3 linked regions of the Homo sapiens genome follow. The protein of the gene in region 2 purifies or fractionates together with the protein of the main gene of each other region. This does not show direct contact. Each region holds a gene or a part of one and is shown on either strand. Other genes may lie near its edges. The genes, in order: BPTF, PWWP2A and CHD5.

What was found.
Region 1: the proteins of PWWP2A (region 2) and BPTF purify together in Homo sapiens (affinity purification with mass spectrometry, with the first as the bait; one large-scale study listed by BioGRID). This does not show direct contact.
Region 3: the proteins of PWWP2A (region 2) and CHD5 purify together in Homo sapiens (affinity purification with mass spectrometry, with the first as the bait; one large-scale study listed by BioGRID). This does not show direct contact.

What each region holds. Positions count from the first base shown.
Region 1 is NC_000017.11:67,978,848-67,982,502, forward strand, and holds part of BPTF (nucleosome-remodeling factor subunit BPTF), read left to right. Parts: intron 1-2,588; coding exon of another isoform or gene 2,589-2,595; exon of another isoform or gene 2,596-3,404; coding exon 3,405-3,441; 3' UTR 3,442-3,655. UniProt on the Homo sapiens protein: Regulatory subunit of the ATP-dependent NURF-1 and NURF-5 ISWI chromatin remodeling complexes, which form ordered nucleosome arrays on chromatin and facilitate access to DNA during DNA-templated processes such as DNA replication, transcription, and repair.
Region 2 is NC_000005.10:160,090,831-160,093,291, reverse strand, and holds the end of PWWP2A (PWWP domain-containing protein 2A), read left to right. Parts: coding exon 1-910; 3' UTR 911-1,953; downstream 1,954-2,461. UniProt on the Homo sapiens protein: Chromatin-binding protein that acts as an adapter between distinct nucleosome components (H3K36me3 or H2A.Z) and chromatin-modifying complexes, contributing to the regulation of the levels of histone acetylation at actively transcribed genes.
Region 3 is NC_000001.11:6,170,234-6,173,888, reverse strand, and holds part of CHD5 (chromodomain-helicase-DNA-binding protein 5), read left to right. Parts: intron 1-3,655. UniProt on the Homo sapiens protein: ATP-dependent chromatin-remodeling factor that binds DNA through histones and regulates gene transcription. May specifically recognize and bind trimethylated 'Lys-27' (H3K27me3) and non-methylated 'Lys-4' of histone H3.

The sequences.
Region 1 (3,655 bases), on a different chromosome or scaffold from region 2:
ATTAGAAACGCCACTAAAAACAGAAAGTTGTGTAAGTGTACCCTGTTAGCTGGGCACGGTGGCTCATGCCTGTAATCCCAACACATTGAGAGGCTGAGGCAAGAGGATGCTTGAGCCCAGGAATTCTAGACCAGCCTGGGCAACATGAGGAAACCCCATCTTTACAAAACACAAAAATTAGCCAGGCATGGTGATGTACACCTGTGGTCCCAGCTGCTTCAGAGGCTGAGGTGGGAGGATTGAGCCCATGAGGTAGACGCTGCAGTGAGCCATCTTCATGCCACTGCACTCCAGCCTGGAAGACACAACAAGACCCTGTCTCAAAAAAAAAAAAAAAAAAAAAGGCCCTGTTAGCAAAGGACTAGGTGCTACAGAGAAAAATATTTACATTTTCGTAGTAACGTAAATAATGACATTGGGCCGGGCACGGTGGTTTACATCTGTAATACCAACACTTTGGAAGGCCAAGGCACGTGGATCATCTGAGATCAGGAGTCGAGACCAGCCTGGCCAACATGATGAAACCCTGTCTCTACTAAAAGTACAAAAATTAGCCAGGTGTGGTTGCACATGCCTGTAATCCCAGCTACTCAGGAGGCTGAGACAGAATCACTTGAACCTGGGAGACGGAGGTTGCAGTGCACCAAGACCGCGCCACTGCACTCCAGCCTGGGCCACAAGAGCAAAACTCCGTCTCAAAGATAATAAAAATAATGACATTGGTTTTCGACTTTTAGAATCACCCTATAGACAAAGCATAGAATGATATAATTTTTAAATTATAGGGAAATAAAACTTGGACTCAAAAAAGGGAGGTTGGGAAATGGTTAAGTGAGCTTGGTTCTCCTTGCCATAGCAGGGCTTAAACAAAAGTTGATAAAACAAGAAATAGCAGTATAAGAAATTACCCTGGCCGGGCGCAGTGGCTCATGCCTGTAATCCCAGCCCTTTGGAAGGCCGAGGCGGGCGGATCACCTAAGGTCAGGAGTTCAAGACCAGCCTGGCCAACATCGTGAAACCCCGTCTACACTAAAATAAAAAAATTAGCTAGGTGTGGTGGTGCACGCTTATAAGTCTCAGCTACTTGGGAGGCTGAGACAGGAGAATCACTTGAACCTTGGAGGCGGAGGTTGCAGATCGCACCACTACACTCTAGCCTGGGCAACAAGAGTGAGACTCCGTCTGAAAACAAACAAACAAAAAAAAACCTACCCAGGCCGGGTGTGGTGGCTTATGCCTGTAATCCTAACACTGTGGGAGGCTGAGGTGGGTGAATCACTTGAGGTCAGGGGTTCAAGACCAGCCTGGCCAACATGGTAAAACCTCGTCTCTACTAAAAATACAAAAATTAGCTGGGCCTGGGGGCAGGCACCTGTAATCCCAGCTACTGGGGAGGCTGAGGCAGGAGAATCATTTGAACCTGGGAGGAGGAGGTTGCAGTGAGCTGAGATCCTGCCACTGCACTCCAGCCTGGGCAACACTGAGGCTCCATCTCAAAAAGAAAAATACATCTACCCAGAGAACTGAAAAGTCAAAGGGATTGATCATAGGGAGCCTGGATTTCAGATGGAGTTAAGGTAGGACAGAGGAGCACAACTTCTCATTATAAGCCCCTCTATGCTTTTTCATTTGTACATCGTGGTTATTCCTCTGGTTCAGTTTCTAAAATTGCTTTTTTAAATTGGGAAGGCCTTTGGTGGTAACTGTGAGGTAGAAGCCAAGGAGTGTGAATCCTACCCTGCTGCCAGCTTGCTGGCAGAGCCCACAGGATGACTGCTGGCAACTGCTGATGAAGGAGAGGAAATTGCCTGGAGGTCCTGGGGACTGTAGGCAAGACAAAGGGAATTGGTAAAGGAGAGATGGAGGCCTAGGCTGGGCCTGCACAGTGAAGGGGCCACTTAGGATGTCTTCTTGCCACGTGGTTATTTTATGTAGTTTTTAAATATACTCAAGTTGACATAATTTTCATTAAAGCACATGGGAGCTGAATTGAGAAGTTTGCTCAATTCTGCTTAAATAAACAAATTAGGCTGTGTGCAATGGTGCATGCCTGTGATACCAACACTTTGAGAAGCCAAAGCAGGCAGTTCGCTTGAGCCCAGGAGTTTGAGACCAGCCTGGGCAACATGGGGAAACCCCATCCCTACAGAAAATACAAAAAATTAGCCGGGCATGGTGGCATGTGCCTGTAGTCCCAGCTACCCAGGAGGCTGAGGTAGGAGGATCACCTGAGCCCTGGAGGTTGAGGCTGCAGTGAGCTGTGATTGCGCCACTGCACTCCAGACTGTGCTACAGAGTGAGACCTTGTTTCAAAACAAAACAAAACAAAACAAAATTACAATGTAAAGAGTTGTATAAGGGCAACTTGCTGTTGCCTTTTTAGGGAATTTCTATTGTTTTCCAGATTTAAGGCAGAATGAAACATAACTAGCCAGTTATTGAAAATTGATTTATTTATGGATTTTCAGAATTTCCTTTGCCATATTTTCCCATTTTATGATCTCCAGCATTGTTTGCACATTGTTTTCATTACTGCACTTTGTTATAATTCATCATTTATACCATCCATATTCTTTCTTTTCTTACAGATTGTGATATCTTTAGTCTGAATTTTTAACTGGAATCAGAACTGGATGTTGGGGTCACTCTTTGTTTTATTGTACCTCGTGATTACCTAATTCAAAATTGCCCCCCAAAAAGTCAGATTAGTTAATATAATTTTTTAATGTTAAAGATGTATCGTGGTAAAAAATTTACTCTAGCAGCCATGTTGAACAATGTATTTAAAAATTGTAAACTCTTGGAATACTGTATTTATCTGCTATTTCAATATAAAGTCCTTTGACTTAGTCCTGGTAACTGTACAGTAATTTGGTTTACTAATGAAAGTTGTGAATAAAACTGTGAAACTAGAAGGGAGACTTTCTGGACTTTAATAGAAAAATGTGATTTTAAGATTGCTTTTTCTTTTGTTTTAGCGTAATTTTTCCCTTTATATTCCCCTCATCAATGTAAATAAACACACACACACACACACACACACACACACACACACACCTTTCACCACAATGGTAATGCTTCTGTAAATGCCTCTATTTGTCCAGTTGGCTGAAAATGTTGTAATCTTTATTAGACAAATATATATATATATATATATATATATATATATATATATATTTAAATATTGGCTTTTTCCAGTGAGCTATTATGTTTAGTGTACAGTGAAAAGTTTTAATATTATAGGTTAAAATTTTCTTAATCGTTCTTTTCTATTCGCTTGCCAAGGGTGAATGAAAGAACATGGCTGCTTCTCCCAGACTGACTGACCTTGGCATCCGCATAAAGCATCATTGTTTTCAAAAATGAAGGGTGCTTAATTGTTCCCTTTTTTCTATATTCTGTAGGTCTCATAACAACAAACTGCAGTCTACAGCTTCTTAAAGTTCAGCGTGTTAACCTAACATAAAACACAGCAAGAATCTGGTTGTCTGAACTATTTTAAATTAAGGAGCCAGATGTTTTTAGTCAGGCTATCCTGACAAGACTTGACCTAAACTTCGTTTTTATTGGTCATAACAGTCCAATTATATTCTTGGCCAATTTTGTCCAACGGACAAGAAAAAAGCAAAGTCAACGACACCATTATCTTGTCAAG
Region 2 (2,461 bases):
TTCAAAAGTCCATTTCACACGTCGATATCAGAATCCTAGCTCAGGTTCCCTTCCACCCCGGGTTCGTTTAAAACCACAGAGGTACAGGAATGAAGAAAATGACTCTTCTCTGAAGACAGGACTTGAGAAAATGCGGAGTGGCAAGATGGCACCCAAGCCCCAGTCTCGCTGCACCTCTACCCGCTCAGCAGGTGAGGCCCCTTCAGAAAATCAGAGTCCCTCAAAAGGCCCTGAAGAGGCCAGCAGTGAGGTTCAGGACACAAATGAAGTGCATGTGCCTGGTGATCAGGATGAACCACAGACATTGGGCAAAAAGGGCAGCAAAAACAATATCTCTGTTTATATGACCCTAAATCAAAAGAAATCTGACTCTTCCAGTGCTTCAGTGTGTAGCATTGATAGCACAGATGATTTGAAATCTTCCAACTCTGAGTGTAGTTCTTCTGAAAGCTTTGATTTTCCTCCAGGCAGTATGCATGCACCTTCCACCTCCTCCACTTCCTCCTCTTCAAAGGAAGAGAAAAAGCTCAGTAATTCCTTGAAAATGAAAGTCTTTTCCAAAAACGTCTCTAAATGCGTCACACCAGATGGCAGGACCATATGTGTAGGGGACATTGTTTGGGCCAAGATATATGGCTTCCCTTGGTGGCCAGCCCGTATTCTTACTATAACTGTGAGCCGGAAAGATAACGGCCTTTTAGTCCGACAGGAGGCCCGTATTTCATGGTTTGGGTCTCCAACAACATCTTTCCTTGCTCTTTCACAACTCTCCCCCTTTTTAGAAAACTTCCAGTCACGCTTTAATAAGAAGAGAAAGGGCCTGTATCGCAAGGCTATCACAGAGGCAGCTAAGGCTGCCAAGCAGCTGACCCCCGAAGTGCGGGCTTTGTTGACACAGTTTGAAACGTGAACATGGGCAGTAAGGTAGGCAAGACCATTGGAAGTCACCACAGATTTTCTAGTCTAGTTAGGAATAATTTCTACAAAATAGCGTGGCCAGATTGGAGAGAGAAGTTGCACTCAGTTGGCTGGCTTTTTAATACTTACCTTATAGCCATTTTTAGACTGAGAGCTTAAACTGAACATATAATCAAATTTTGTGTTAAGGAAGTGAGATTTTAGCAGTATTTTTCAGTTTTGAAGTTCGAAACCATCCCAAGGCATAGGAGCCATAGCCTCAACTGAAATTGAATTTTTGTAGGGACTGTTAATTGCCATTTGTACCTAATACTGTATATATACATATATATACGTGTGTGTGTGTGTATATATATATATCCGTGTATGTATATATACACACATATATATGTATATATACACATATATATATATGAAATACAGCCTGTCACTGTGTGACACAGATTGCATATTTGGGATTGCAATAAGGGCTTGGTGAGCTGGGGGAATAGTGGATATTTAATGACTACTTGTTTTTTAAATAATGAACACTTAGCCTTTCTATGCGCATAATGGTGTAAAAGTTAGATGGTTAGGTGTTTGACAAACAGATGGTTGCAATTCAGTTACAGACTGGGGAAATAGCCCAGTGTTTGGGATTAAAACTGTCAAGACTGGATAGGTGTTAGTCATCACTGTCTTTCGTCCAGTGGGGATTTAATAAATACTTTCAAGCTTCTGGTTTGGGAGTTTAGATAGGTTTGATTTTGGATTTGTAAATAGTGATTGCTAAATTTGGTCAGATTTCTCCTGACTGGCTGTTCCTAAATTCTTAGGATATGTCCCAGTAAAATTATACTTTGTGAATTAATTGTCATATGTGTAATTGTTGCATTTTGGATGTACCTAATTTGATAATTAAAACAAAATAATTTCCGTTTAAGGTATCTGTTTGCAGGTCAGAAAATGAGAAAATGTAATTGTGTAATGCTCTGAAATGTAAAAAAAAAAAAAAAAACCAAAAAAAAGCTGTAAATAAAATCAACTAAATCCAAATTATTTGTGTGTGTTTCTCAAAAAGCTTTGAAAAATTTCAAGATGGTAGAAAATTATTCTTTGTAAGAGTGTTTAGAAGAGATGAAAAATCAAACTTTTATTTTGCTATTTGCCCTATCAGGGAATATATTATCTGAGATAAGAAAACTTCAAATAATGAGAGATGAATCAGTATATTCTCAAAATAAGATTTTGTAGTATAGAGGTTTGATAATGCTTTTAGATTTGATATCCCCTTCCTGCCAATTTCTCATAAATGTGTGAATTTTAATTTTTAGTCTTAATATTTCATCACATGCTTCCTTTTTTTACATTCGGGTAATTACAACCGGTCTCTTCTGTTTGGTTTTCTGCCTCATGTATCACTGCTTTTGGGGCTAGTAACTTAGCTTACTATTTTTCTACATGGTCCATCTGTCCCTAAGATTTGATTTCTTATTTTCCATTTTTAGCTTTGTATTAGTAGTGAGAAATATATCTGATTGGCTGTGGAGGCAAGTTTATCTCA
Region 3 (3,655 bases), on a different chromosome or scaffold from region 2:
TCTTGGGCGGTGTACTGCCCCCCTTTGCCAGCATAAGCCCTGTCTCATGGGGGGAGGTTCGAGGACTAACGGCAGCCTGAGAACTCCTTGGCCAGCGTCTAGGGTGGCCCTGAGAACCTCTGGCCCAGCAGTGGCCAAACTAGAGACCGCTGCCCTCTGCCCTTCACCACTGCCGCCCTGACCCTCCTGGGTCTCGCTGGGCTCTGCCTGCCATTGCTGAGCCCCTGCAGGCATCGTGTGGGTCCTTTGCATTCACAGTTTTTACTTCTCCCCATAGCCCTGGGGGAAAGGCTGCCACATTAGGCCCATTTCACAGATGAAGAGAGAGGCTCAGTGGGGAGGGGACTTGCTGGTATCACCTCCAGGAGGGGTAGCTTGAAGCCTCTGCTGCCCCTGTTGCTCCCTCCTCCTGACCTCCTGGTGGCCTTGTTCTCTGCTTGTTGCTGGTTGGGGAGTCCAGGTGGGGAACAGAAATAGCCCCTCTCGGCCGGGCGCGGTGGCTCATGCCTGTAATCCCAGCACTTTGGGAGGCCGAGGCGGGTGGATCACGAGGTCAGGAGATCGAGACCATCCTGGCTAACATGGTGAAACCCTGGCTCTACTAAAAATACAAAAAATTAGCCGGGTGTGGTGGCGGACACCTGTAGTCCCAGCTACTTGGGAGGCTGAGGCAGGAGAATGGCGTGAACCTGGGAGGCGGAGCTTGCAGTGAGCCGAGATCGCGCCACTGCACTCCAGCCTGGGTGACAGAGCGAGAGTCCGTCTAAAAAAAAAAAAAAAGAAATAACGCCTCTCCCCAGGTCCTGGAGAGAGTGGTGGACATTGAGTGGGGTCCCTGTCCTTGGCAGGTTTGCCGGCCTTTGCAACCTGGTGATGGTGTTCTCGTCCCAGCTCCTGGCTTGGCCCCTGCAAATCCTTCAACCACCCAGAATCAGATGACCTAACTTTCGCTCCACAGTCACGCGCCTTCCCCTTGTTTTGATCACCTTGTGTTTGCCAAGTGCCCTGGCGGCTGCGTCCTTGCTCTGCTGCTGCCCCTCCCCAGAGGAGTGAGGGGCTGGAGCCTGGGTCTGGCAGAGCTGTGGGGCTGTGTGCAGGGGGACTAGTGTGGTGAACCAGCCTTGACCCCCTTGAGGGACCTGTGACCTGCCAGACCACAGACCAGCCTGAGTCACCTCAGTGTCCCCAGGGCATCCACCGAGCCGGTTTACACAGCGTGGGCTGTTTCAGTGGGAGGGTGCTGGGGGAGAGACTTCGCAAGGGGGTGGGCGCCCACTGCCTGTGTTCAAACAGTGGCAGCTTCACCACTGCCAGCTGTAGGACTGAGATGTAGGTAAATAATGAGGTCCTTTGAGCCTCAGTTTCCCAATCTGCAGATGGGGATAAGAATAGAACCCTGAGCCAGGTGTGGTGGTTGTGCGTGTTGTCCCAGCTGCTCAGGAGGCTGAGGTGGGAGGGTCGCTCGAGCCCAGGAGGTCGAGGCCTGCAGTGAGCCATGATCATAACACTGCACTCCAGCCAGCGACTCTGTCTCTAAAATAAATAAATAAATAAATAAAGCCCCAAACCAGAAAGAATAGTACCCCTCTCTGAGTTGCTGTGTTGAACTGATACAAATTAATCAGTCCTAGGTACTTTGGGCCTGGCACGAGCCTGGCAGGTGGTATGCAGTTATCACGACTGCTGCTATTGCAATGCGCTACCCTGAGAAGGGCCCACCTCATCGGCCTGGCCGCAGCCTGCAGTGGCTCAGCCTAGGCCAGCCTGGGGGTCCCACAGGGCTGAGCTGGCGCATACTGGGAGCTAGAGAGGGGCTGAGGGAGCTCTGGAGAAAGCAGCAGAAGGTGCCTCTCCTTCCTCTGGTCGACTTGAGCCCCACCCCGCCTCCACCCCCAGGAGGTGGGTGATCACAGGGTAATGGGTCTTAATTAGAGCAGGCTTGGATCCGTGGAGCCTCAGGCCCTGGAGGGTTAGGGCTGGTGCATGAGGGCACTGCCAGGTGGGCCAGGAGGGTGGTGGGGCAGCCACGAGGGGCCAGGAGCTGGCAGGACAAGGAGTTCTGAGGTGAGGTTGCTCCTCCCTGGAGCCCCTCACCCGGGACGGGCAGGATGCCACCTTAACACTGGCTGCATGCTCTGCGTCTTGGAACCCTCTGGGCCTCTGCTCTGTCCCCACCAGATGGAGCCATAGGGAGGAGGGACTGGTGGGCTCAAGGGCACAGGCTGGGCTTGGGGAAAGGCTGACCGTGCAGTTGCTTGTATGGTGACCCCCAGATCTGGTTTTAGAAAGCTCAGGACCTGCTGCGGGAGCAGAGAGTGTCCAAGGGCAGAAAGGGGCTGGGGCTTGGCTGAAGACGGGAGCGTGTGAGGTGTTGGGGGGGGCAGTGTCATAGAGAATCAGGCGTGTGGTGACCTCAGGGCCACCCACCAGAAGCCATCTGGGGAGAGGAAGGGCCCATCAGAGACAGGGTTAGGCAGGGCTGAGTCCCCGTCTCCGTGTGCCAGTTCCAGAGCCTTCTCAGAGGTGGGTTTCACCAGGCAGAGGCCCTGGGCTGTGAGGTCTTCTGGGAACGGAGCTGGGGTCTGTCCATGGGCAGAGGGTCTGGGGCCTTGTCCTCGAAGGCCTGTTCTGGGCGTGGGTTAGGGCCAGAGCAGGGGTCCCCCTTTGTCCTCCCCTTACCCACGGGCAGATCCCAGACTTCCTTCCAGAACTTCTGGCAGCCACCTGTGCATACCCTCATCCGTTCTGTTGGTCAGGCCACCAGTCAGTGACCATGTGCTGGGCTGGGTTTCCTAAGTCTGGGACCACCCTGCCGGAAGGGGACAGCTGGGAGGAAGCAGGAGGGAGAGGCCCCCCCTCGAGATTGCATCAGCCAGAGCCCGTTACATAAGCAGTGCTGGGCACCGCCAGGGTGTGGGGGTGGCTCTGCCCAGGCGGTCTCCTGCGGTGGCGGGGGAGGCGGAGGCCCGGTGGCAGAGCGGGCAGTTGTGGACTGGCATCCCATCGGCTGCCCCACCACAGACAGCTCCCCGCCAGCCCTGCCACTGCCCCACCGACACCTGCTCTGCAGGACGACTCCGAGGGGGTCCCCGTGCACGTTTTCAGCTGGTTTGAAAAATCCCCGCCTTTCCACACTAGTGATCAGAGGAATGGGGTGGGGTCAGCCGGAGCAGCCCAGCCCCTGCCCCTGGCTGCTTGGGGCCTCACCCACATAAACCCACCTGGGGCGGCCCTTGCTGCTGGCTCCCCTGTGTGCCCTAGCCCTCCACAGGGTGCCCTCCCTGTGTGGGAGCCCCAAGCACCTGGCCACCCTTGAGGGAGGCCCTGGTGCAGAGAGGCACCAAGACAGTGGTGCAGCCCCCACCTTCCACTGGTGCAAACACCTTCCACTGGTGCACATTGGCCCCGTGGGATGCAAGGGTGGGAGGGGCGTCCGCTCAGCCACCAGAGCCCCGGTGCCCCCGAGGAGTGGGGACAGTGGGGCTAAAGCTGCACCCATAGTGTGGGCCATGGGAGCCCCAGAGACCCAGGGTAGGAGCCCTCCTGTCCCCCTTTCCCCGCTTAGGACTCTCTGGGGGTCCCAGGCCGGGCGGTGGGGGCCTGTGTGGAGGGTGACAGGTGAGTGTTGGGTGCACATGCATGTCTGTGCGTCTGC